3 linked regions of the Homo sapiens genome follow. The protein of the gene in region 3 purifies or fractionates together with the protein of the main gene of each other region. This does not show direct contact. Each region holds a gene or a part of one and is shown on either strand. Other genes may lie near its edges. The genes, in order: RNASE7, CTSH and MMRN1.

Region 1 (3,751 bases), on a different chromosome or scaffold from region 3:
AAGCAGGCTCAGGGCCACGGAAGTCCCTTAAGGTCAAAGGAAATGTGATCCTGGATCTGGGGGATGAAGCTCAGACACTCCCTTTACCTTATGTCTTCAGGCCAAGGGGATCTGGCCAGAGCCAGGTCCAGGGCCTAGGTTGGAAGAGCAGTGGTCTAGAGAAACGGGAGGGGCAGTTAGAGAGGAAGAGAGAGAAGGAATAAAATGCCAGAGCACCTCATAAACAATCTCTTGGCTAGAGAGGTAATGACCTTTATTGCAGCCAACACAGGGTAACTGGCTCTTCAGAGCACTCGTTTCTTCATGAGTGAACTCTTACCTAGTTCACCGCTTGCCTCTGTAACAGTGACTTCTTTCTTGCGCAACTGGTAGAGTAGAAGGTACACTGTATTTAGAGCAAGGAGACCTAGGTTCAAGTCCAGGTTCTGCTACTAACTAATTAGACAAGCTCTTTAATTCATTAAGCTTTCTAAAACCTTAATTTCCTCATCCATAAAGAAGGCATACAATCCCTGTCAAGTCTATGTCACAAGGGATTAGAGGATTCTATACAAATATGAAGTGGTATTTATTTATATTTTTCTTTCCTTCAGGTCACCTCACTGCCACGTCAGAGCTGGGGAAGACTTCTAGTTCAGGAACAGAAACAGCTGTGTCCACAAATCCCATATGCCCCCTTTCCATTTATTTCCTCTCCTTGTCATGCTGCCCTAATGCCAGGGGGCAGGGGAGACATGTGCAATGGCATAGACCAGGGAACCCACAGACCTGAGCTTGCTGTTTCTTGGGGATAAGCATCTGGGAAAACAGCAACAAAAAGATGAAAAGCCATCCCTCTAGAGCTCAGCTCACCAGAGTGTCAGCTTCAGCCTCCCAGCAGAGGCTGAACCAGGAACAGCCCCAAGAGATGAGGGGAAGAGAATGCTCTGGGTGTAGGGGAGTGGTGCGGAGTCCTGGAGAGGGAATTGAAGGTCAGCCAAAGAGCAAGCCAGTCTGGAAACCTAAAGGACTCTGTCCAAGTGTACAGGAACCAGGTGGAATTGCTGAGAGTCCTTTTTCTGGGGAGGCTTACAGGCCACTACGTAAGACTTGTTCTGTCGCTTCTCTTTGTACCTGCAGTTCGGATGCTTCCCTGAGGTGAGCTTACACATGGTCAGGGACACGGCCCCGTGGCTCTGGTGGCAGTTTTTATCGCCATTCTTGCAGGCTATTTTGGGGGTCTGGCAGGTGGCGGCCACACTGGAGAAAGGCTCGTGCAGGAAGGTGTTGAGGTCTTTGCACCGTTTTGTGTGCTTGTTAATGTTTTTCATGGCTGAGTTGCATGCTTGAGGGCTGGGCTGCATGTGCTGAATTTTAAACCACTGTGATGAGGTCATGCCCTTGGGCTTGGCACTGACTGGGATCTCTGCCACCCACAGCCCCAGCAGCAGAAGCAGCAGAAGGGGGCAGAATCCTGCTCTGGCCGGTGCCATCTCTCTTAGGAGGAGCAGTCAGGATGGAGGGCAGGGGTCGCTGGGACAGAGGTGTTCAGTTGAGAAATTAGTCCTCTTATACCTGCTCATATGAGCTAGTCACCCATCTCCCTACTCGGTTGTCTCCTTTCCTCACTTTGTGTCTCATCTCTGCCTCTTCTTCTGTGTGTCCACATCCACTGCAGCCCCAACAACAACCCTGTGGCCCCATCTCTCATCTTGTATTTCTGTTCCCTTCATTCTGTCCCTGTTGCCTGTCACTCTTTGTCCTCTCCCCTTTCCCTTAAGTCTCATCCCTTTTGTGTCTCCATGTTCCTGTGTCTGTGTCTCATCCTCTCCCGATTCCCATCTCGTCTGTGTTCCCATTCTTTTTCATTTTTTGCCTCCATCCCCAACATCACTCTCCCCTTTCCCCAATGCGTGTCCTCATCTCCCCTAAATCCAGTCCCTCCTTTATCCATTTTATCGCTCACCTGAGTGTACTCTCAGGATCAGAACCCATCCCTCCTTCTCTGTCCTCACTCCTCCCCAGATCCTGCCACAGCCTCACCTTTGCGCTTGGTCTTCGTGCTGTGACTCCTGCTCAGTGGGCTGAGGTGGTGTCCACGCACTCCTAGGCTGTCAGATCTCTGAGGGCCTCTTCTCACTCCTGAACTCCTTAAGAGCTGGCCCGGGCTACGCTGTGTCTGTTTGGGGGTGGGCTGGGAGCATCACTGGATCAGGAAATGAATCAGGTTCATGCCTCTCCACTTACATGTCCCAAATACGTGGACACCTAAGGATGCCTGTACCTGCCTAAACATGTTCAGCAATGAGGAAGCTTGAATCGTCACATTCGAAGACTGTATTTGTTCCCTGGCCACATGATTTTAATGACTCTTTAATAGAGCACCTGACCCAGGTGTCAACTGAAATCAATTTCAGGAAGAGTTGTCATTCATATCCTCTCATATACACTTCTGGCCCTTGATCCTGGGAAGAGTCAATCACTGTGGTGTTAAGGGTTGCTTCTTCTCTGACCTGAGGCACAGATAGGACAGCCTAGAAAGATGCTTTGTCTGGTTCCTTGTCATCTGGAGATACTGGTTATCTTTCGGAGGAGATGGAACAGACACGAGGGAAGTGGGTGAATGAATCATCACTGTCACGAGGCCTGGCACCATCCCCAATAGCGAAGCCATTCCACAATGATTCACAGGCCTCTCCAGTTCCAGGTACCAACCAAGGCCACATGGCTTTAGCTGGAGAAGGCAGCCAACACCTCTCAATTTCACTTGTTCCCTCCCTTTTTTATTGAAAATTGCAAAAATTTAATACTGCCCAAATGTTTGTGTTTAAAATGCTGTTGCTGCTCTCGACATCCTGCCTTAGTGCTTCCTTCACCTTGTATGTCCTGTTCCTTGTGGTGGTTACAGCTGTGTGGAGCATCTGGGTCAGTGCTACTCCAAGCTCTTGTGAGCTTGGAATATGACACTCAGGAGAACCGAGACACCAAGGCAGAGAAGCATCACCCTCTGTGGGTGAGAAGGCCTGTAAAACTGAGATGAGGAATATTTTTGTTTTCAGAATTTACCTGTAAGTAGTAGGCAATCTCAGAATCTTGGGCATGCTTCATTCATGTGGTCAACAAACATTTATCGAGCATCTACTAAGTGTCAAGATACTTGGGATATATCACTGAACAAAAAAGGCAAAAATGGCCAGGTACGGTGGCCCACACCTGTAATCCTAGCACTTTGGGAGGCCATGGCAGGAGGATTGCCTAAGGCCACGAATTCAAGACCAGCCTGGGCAATGTGGCGAAACCCTGTCTCTATAAAAAATTTGAAAAATTAGCCAGGCATGGTGGTGCATGCCTGTGGTCCCAGCTACTCCAGAGGCTGAGGAGGGAGGATTGCTTGAGCTTGAGAGATAAAATCTGCAGTGAAAATCATGATTGCACCACTGCACTCCAGCCTGGGTCACAGAGTGAGACCCTGTCTCAAAAAACAAACAAACAAACAAACAAACAACAACAAAAAACAAAGACAAAAGTCCCTGCCTTTGTAGAGCTTACATTCCATTGGAGAAAGACAGTAAAAAAAAATACGTATACTTTGCTCAAAGTGATAATGGCTAGGGAAAAAAGTAGAACAGTATAGGGGTTGGTGGTCAGTAATTTTACGTAACATCGTTGAAATCGCTGACTCTGGGGCAGAGACTTGAAGATAAGAGTGAACTTGTGATTATCCGGAGGAAGAATGTTCCAAGTGAAGAGACTAGCACTGCAAAAGCCCCAG
Region 2 (3,651 bases), on a different chromosome or scaffold from region 3:
CAAGGAGCTTAGGGTCTGGTAGCAGATGGTCCTGTGCTGGCTTTGGCAGAGGTGGGCACACATGGTGTGTGGTGGGAGCCTGAGGAGGGGCCTCACCCGGCCTGAGGAAACTCACTGAGAAGTGGAGGCCGAGTCAGAGCCTGTGAGGCAGGGGAGTGGGGACAGTCTCAGCCCAAAAAACAATGCTGGCAAGAGGCAGGTGCAGGGGTAAGGTCACAAGGAGGGAAGCGCAGCCCTTTCAAGGCAGGAGAGAAGGCAGCAGGACAAGGGACAGAACTAGAGGGAGGGTAGGACCTGGCATTTAGGAACCAGCATGTGGCTGGGCCTGGGCGTGAGGTTAAGAAGGGAGAGTTGGCCGGGCACGGTGGCTCACGCCTGTAATCACAGCACTTTGGGAGGCCGAGGCGGTAGATCACGAGGCCAGGAGTTCAATACCAGTCTGGCCAAGATGGTGAAACCCTGTCTCTACTAAAAATATAAAAAGTTAGCTGGGCGTGGTGGCGGGTGCCTGTACTCCCAGCTACTCAGGAGGCTGAGGCAGATAACTGCTTGAACTCGGGAGGCGGAGGTTGCAGTGAGCCGAGATTGCGCCATTGCACTCCAGCCTGGGCAACAGAGCAAGACTCCGTCTCAAAAAAAAAAAAAAAAAAAAAAAAAGAAGGGAGAGTAAAAGAGACAGGGAGACTGAGTTGGAGTCTGGGCTTTCTCCCGAAGGCCGCATGGAGCCTCGGCGGCATTCTGATCGAGGCAGGCGTGGGGTCTGAGCTGGGTTTGAGAGGCCTGGGGGAGGCCACCCTCAGGGGTCTGGATGGAGGCCCCGGTCTGAGTGGTCAGCGACACAGATGGGCCAAGGGAGTCATGTGAGGTCTGTGGTGGTCAGCAGGCTGGCGGCAGGGTGGGGTGGAGAGGGGGACCGGCCCAACAGGACTGTGGACACCTGGGAAATTCTGAGGGAGGCCAGTGCTGCTCATCACCACGAGGGGAAATAAAGGAGGAGCAACAGGTCTTGGGGAAAGACAAGGCACTTGGCTGTGGCCAGGCTGGGCGGAGGTGATGGTGGGAGGCCCAGCAGCCTTGATAGGGTAGGGGTGGGGGTGGGCCCCCAAAGGGTCCTTGGCACAAGAGGCCAACTGCATGGACAGAGGCGAGAGGATGGCGCTCGTGGCAGGAGGGAGAGGAGCCAGGAAGATGGGGCAGGTGGGGGGAAGGAGGGGTCCTGAGAAGTCTGGCTCGGGAAGGAAAGAGATGGTGCCGCAGAGCGGGTATGGGGTGAGAATGATAAAGAGGCCCCTGGACTGGTGAGAGCAGTGGGCTCAGGTGGGTGGAGGAGGGGAAGGAAGAATTTGGAGAGAACAGACAATTGTGAGAATTCCGGCGGGAGGGAGGTGGGGGGAGAAGGGATGTCTTCCAAGGCTGGGGAGGGAGTGAAGCTAGGCATGCTGTACGCCAAGAAGACAGAGTGGAGGCTGTTGGAGTTACCTTGCCCTGGTAGGGGTAGGTGTCTTCACCCATGATCCCCTTGTTGTACAGGATATACTCGAAAGCCTGGCTGGGGAGACCCCTGCAAGAAGTACACACAGGTGAGCCCACCTGGGGCTGTCCTGATAGAGGCGGGGCCCTCGGGGACTGGCGTGGCGAGATATCTGGCCTGGCAGGCTGGGGACTTGGTTGGGCATGTCCCAGTGGCAGAGGGGGTCTCTGAGAGGCCCAGCCTTGGGATAAGACTCAGCAAACTCAGATGAGGCCACCGGAGTCCAAGGACCAGCCCAAACATGCCTCAGTGGGATAGAGACCCCTTAAGGCCAGCCGCTCTGTCAGGAGTGCACAGCCCCACACCATGGTCAACAGCATCAGCCCAGAGCACTGTCATCGCCACAGCCGAGCCCCTGGGCAGGTGCTTCCCAGGCATGACTCCCTGACCCCTCGTGTCGACCCTGTGTGGTGGATGCTGTCACTGGCTGAGGCAAAGAGGCTGAATAACCTGGCCAGGGCCACACAGCTAAAGCTGGGAAGTGGTTCCAAAAGTGGGTCTTTTCTACATCATGTGGCCTCCCAGAATAAACAAAAACTCAGCAGCTGCCCAGCAATCCCCGTCCCTTCTCTGTTTCTCTCCATAGCATTCCGCACCGCCTGACCTAGTCTAGCCTTGACTGTGGTCTCTCTGAGCCTGCCAGAATGCCCGCTCTTCCAGTTCTGCTGAGCGCTGTATCCCCAGGGCCTACACACAGCGGGTGCTCTGTGATATTTGTTGTATGAATGAGAAAAGGAAGTACTGTCCTGAACCAAAGCAAATAGACTCCTTTGAAAAACAGGCTGGATGTGGTGGCTCACACCTGTAATCCCAGCACTTTGGGAGGCCAAGGTGGGTGGATCACCTGAGGTCAGGGGTTCGAGACTAGCCTGGCCAACATGGTGAAACCCCCATCTCTACTAAAAATACAAAAATTAGCCAGGTGTGGTGGCGCACGCCTGTAATCCCAGCTCCCTGGGAGGCTGAGGCAGGAGAATGGGGTGAACCCGGGAGGCGGAGCTTGCAGTGAGCTGAGATCGCGCCACTGCACTCCAGCCTGGGCAACAGAGCGAGACTCCATCTCAAAAAAAGAAAAAATAAATAAATAAATAAATAAATAAATAAATAAAAAATAAAAACGGTGGGACCCCAGAGTGCCCAAATGTCAGACTCTTGTTATGGGTTGGGTTTCTAAGCTGTGGAGTGGAAACAGACCAAAAGTAAGGGGACACTGAGCATGATGGTGGATCTGAGAGCAGGCTACGACGTCACCCCTGGGTCCCCAGGACTTGGCTGCAGCACGGCTCCCTGCAGGAGGAAGAGCCAGCTCAGAGGGGCTGGGGTCTGGGAGAGGGATGTGCCCCAGGGAGGTGGAGGGGAGTCGAGGCACGGCACCCCAAGAGCCTGGCTTTATGCACACCATGTGCCAGGTGAGCAAAGACCACAGAAATGTCTCAGAGCACTGCATGAAGGGAGGGCTAGAGTCACTGTAGAAATGTCAGCAAATTCCTGGCAACCTGCTTTACAGTGGGCCAGGAAAGCAGGTCCAGGCAAGGTACAGCCCTTACACACAGCCACCTCACCCTCACAGGGCGCAATGAGCTTGGGAGGCTGGGACTTTAGTGAGTTCATCTAAAGGCCAACCCTGTATCTGTGTGTGGATCTCGGGTTTGGAGGATGATGTGTAATGGTGTGTTGCTCACTCTATTAAATTCTTTTGGCCACACTCCCAGAGGCCTTGGTGGCGGGTGAGGCCAACCGCACTGTGGAGAGCCAGGTGATACAGTGGAGAGAGGACAGAGGCCTGGACTCAGATTCCAGCTCTGCCCTGTCCTGGCTATGAGACCTGGCCATGTGAGGTGACCACCCCTGTACAACAGAGACCATTTTGCCATCGCCCAGGGCAGTGGTGGGTTATATCTGTGGCAGACCCAGCACACACTGGATCCTGTCGAAGCGGTCAGTGGGAAATGAGGAAGTTTTGGGCCCCTTCTGGTCAGAGACGTACCCTTGGCAGCCGTGATTATTGAAGTCCTGGGCGCAGTCCACCAGCTGCTGTTCCGCCTGGAAGAAGGACACAACCCAGTGACCTGCCAGCTGAGAAGCCGTCAAGGCTTTGGCGTGAGGCGCTAAGCCTCCCT
Region 3 (3,651 bases):
GAGCAGAAAAAAAGTATGACAGCAGAATTTAATGGTTAATTTTTGTAATTTTCTAATTTGTCATTAAACTCAGAATAATTTTCTAATTTGTCATTAAACTCAGAAATAATAATTTCTAATTTTCTAATTTGTCATTAAACTCAGAAAAAAAATCCCTCTTTTTCTGCATATTCAAATTTTACCTTCCTCTGACCCTTCTCATTAACATGTTAACATATGTATGAGCCCTCTGTATTTAAAATGAAATATTATAAGAAACAAACACAAAACATAAATAACTGGACTAGCCTTGGCTTCTGACCACTTTCTCCTTTTTTTTTTTTTTTTTTCATAAAAGCCCTCCTTAATTGAGTTGGCTTTAATGGCTCTCTTTTGCCTTCCTTCATACCTCAATTCTCTCAGGCCAGAGCATGGTGCTCACTAAACTGAAATAGTGGCTATTTTTCAGTCCTCATTTTGTCTTTTTCAGCAGCATTTCACACTGTTGATCACTTACCTCCTTCTTAAAATATTTTCTTCCTTTGCTCTATGACACCACACTTTTATAGATTCCTTCCTAACTTCTCTGGTCACCCCATTTAAGACTGTATTGTTGGCATCCACCACTATCAGTTCATCAAATATTAGAGATTCTCCGTTCATAATTCAAGGTCCTTCTTTCTTTCAGTATCATCCACATTCATGACTTAATACATTTCTATATACCAATGCTTTGCCAAATTTATATCTCTAGCCTTGATCTCCCCTCTGGATGCCAAACCCATCTAATAATCCATGATTTTACAGAGTTTTATTGAGCTCTTTCTATGCACCTGGCACTGTTCTAGGCAGCAAATAGAGTAGTAATAAGACAGGCAAGGTCCCTGTTTTCATGGGATGTATTGCGGAAAGACATAAAATACACCATTGTCTATATAAGTAGAATAATTTCAAATAATTCCTACAAAGAAAAAAATAAAGGTGACAAAATAAGGAATGGCAAGTGAGAGCATAGTTAACTTTACATTGGGTGGTAAGAGAAGGTCCCTTTGAAGAGGTGACATTAAAGCTGGAGGTGCAAGTGGAAGAGGAGTCCTTCATTATAAAAGGTGCAGAAAGAGCATTCCAGCAAGAGCAAAAAAAGTTTCCTTTGAGATATTAACTTGACATGTTCAATAAACAGAAAGGAAGCCAGTGTGGCTGGAGGAAATGAAGTGCAGTGATCTTGGAGTGTGACAATGAATGAAAGACCAAATTTCACACATTTTAAGACATACATCTCTGAAATCAAGAATGTGTCTTGAAATCAAAGGCATTTTTCAGTCACTAGTGGTCAGATAGCAGTTGTTGCCATTGCCTTCGAAATACTTTACCAGTTTCATTTACATTTCCTTCTTAAGTTTGCAAAAGTGATATGTGACCAAAATCTCAAAGTCTGAAAGACAAATCTAAAAATTCAAATTAAGCAAGTATGATGTCATACTTTTCCTTCTGATTAGTACCTAAAATAATGTGTCACTTACAATAATGAAGACTTAATCCAGTGAAATGCATTAATCTGACTTAAATGTTCAAAAGATCCCTCCCTTTTGTGGATCATGGATTATGGTAGACAAGAGTGGAAAGAAGTGGACCAATTAGAACACTAGTGGTGAATAACGGCAAGTAGAAGATGGAGAGAAGTTGAGGTATTTGGGATGTATTAGAGGTGTAACAAGACTTTTTGATAGATTAGATAAAAACCAGAAGGGAGAGAAAAATGCCAAAGATCTATCCAAGGTTTCTAGTTATGGAACTAGCCATTCACTGATTTGGTAAAAATTAAGATACATGTGTACAGGGGTTGGGAATTGTGGGAAAAGCTAAGTAGGCAGTTAGATTGTATCATTACCTCATTTCACCTATTATCCTCTCAGGCAAGGTTTACTGACCCCATTCACAATTGGTAGGCCATTCCCCCCATTATACACTACAATTTCTTAAGCTTCATTCAGAATCAGCATTTGTGATTCACTGTTATTCCTCCTCTCACCTCTGCCACTGGGCTGTTGGTTCCATAAGGCAGGACATGTAGGAGTTCTTGTTCATTGTTTTACTCCCAGCACAAGCACAGTGCTTGGGACAGATAAGGTGTTCAGCAAATATTTGTTCAACATATAAATACACTAATCCTAATTTCTTATTTCCATCCTTCCTATTTCAAAGTGCTTGGTCATTGACTAACACCCACTCTGCCAGACAGGAAACCATAGGTCTATTTTGGCCAGGAGTTCCTGCAAGGCTAAAAAAAAAAAGAAGAAAAACTACAAGATGAAACAAAAATATGCCAGAATAATCCTGAATAATCTAGAAAAGAACCTGTAATAAACATAAATACGCCTTTTACTAAGAATTATTATAAAATTCCAAGAATGGTAGAAAAAAGAACAAATATGAGTTTATTCTAAATCAACCAGGTTTTTTTCATAAACAAATGCAAATATTTGGGAAGCTTTCTTCTTTATATTCACATATTAATCCTCATATTTCACATTCAGTATGATTAAATATTGATTGTGTACCTGCTATAAACCAGAGACTTTGCTAGCTCTGAAAATAAGTCCCTATATGCAAAGATACTACAAATTCATTATGATTATTATGTAGTGTCGTAAGTGCAGTGAACAGGGGAATTCAAAGAGACCTGTAGGAGCGATTAGAAAGGCCACCTAACTTCACCTGAGAAGGCTTCCTGGAGTTATTATTAGGTGTGAAAAGAGAGAACGATGGCAAAAGAGGGCCCATTGTTAGTCACAGGGGCAGACAGGGAAGAAAGGTGGGTTTAACAAACAGCACATATTGTACCAGAGAACCACTTATTTGAATAGCCGGAAGTGGCGGAAGATGAGGTTGGGGAGGTAGGCAGGAGGCAGATCTAGGATGGCATCGTGTGACTAACTGGGTAACAAATCTAGATTGTATTCTGGAGGCAACCAATAGCCTGTGAAGCCTCACGAGCTGGGAAGTGAACTGGTCACGCTTATCTTCCCACTTGTGATAAGAGACTGTACCTGCCAAGGGAGTGTAATGTAGGAGCTGAGAGCTACAACTCTAAAGCCAGCCAGCTTGGATTTGAGTCTTTGCCCTGAGCTTTGTTAGCCAAGTGACCTTAGGTAAGCTACTTAATCCCTCTGTAAAGAAATAATGATAAAAATCTTCCTCTTCTTTATGGAGTTATAGTAATGATTAAATGAGTGAATATATTCACTGACAATAGTAGAGTACTAGTAACAGATGCCATATAAGTGTTTGCTACTATTATTATTATTATTTGCCAATCAAATGAAAGTACGAAGGACTTCTTTTGACCATATCAAGGGTTTGCAGCAGCACTGTGTCCAAAAGTGAAGGACCTAGGCTTTTCTCTAATGCCATTGTCATTTGCATGGCCTAATGAGTAAGGAATCTTGGTAATGGAAAGGATTACTAAAAGAAAACCTCAGGCTCTCCAGGACCTCAAATAAGAGAATCCCTACATGCAGTTAGTACTTTTCTATAGAAGGAGTTTAAGATTATTTTTGTTAGAAAATCCAGAGGATAAAGTTCTGTTCAGCAAGTTATACCTTTAGTATCTTGTTTTCTCATAGCACATATTAACATTTTTTGAAGTCTGATAGGTATGTTAGTGTTTAC

What was found.
Region 1: the proteins of MMRN1 (region 3) and RNASE7 purify together in Homo sapiens (affinity purification with mass spectrometry; 3 studies listed by BioGRID and IntAct, with this or other methods). This does not show direct contact.
Region 2: the proteins of MMRN1 (region 3) and CTSH purify together in Homo sapiens (affinity purification with mass spectrometry; 3 studies listed by BioGRID and IntAct, with this or other methods). This does not show direct contact.

What each region holds. Positions count from the first base shown.
Region 1 is NC_000014.9:21,040,714-21,044,464, reverse strand, and holds RNASE7 (ribonuclease 7 precursor), read right to left. Parts: upstream 2,104-3,751; 5' UTR 2,023-2,103; intron 1,513-2,022; 5' UTR 1,473-1,512; coding exon 1,002-1,472; 3' UTR 232-1,001; downstream 1-231. UniProt on the Homo sapiens protein: Exhibits a potent RNase activity.
Region 2 is NC_000015.10:78,927,933-78,931,583, forward strand, and holds part of CTSH (pro-cathepsin H isoform a preproprotein), read right to left. Parts: coding exon of another isoform or gene 3,575-3,651; coding exon 3,519-3,574; intron 1,562-3,518; coding exon 1,480-1,561; intron 1-1,479. UniProt on the Homo sapiens protein: Important for the overall degradation of proteins in lysosomes.
Region 3 is NC_000004.12:89,897,833-89,901,483, reverse strand, and holds part of MMRN1 (multimerin-1 isoform 1 precursor), read right to left. Parts: intron 1-3,651. UniProt on the Homo sapiens protein: Carrier protein for platelet (but not plasma) factor V/Va. Plays a role in the storage and stabilization of factor V in platelets. Upon release following platelet activation, may limit platelet and plasma factor Va-dependent thrombin generation.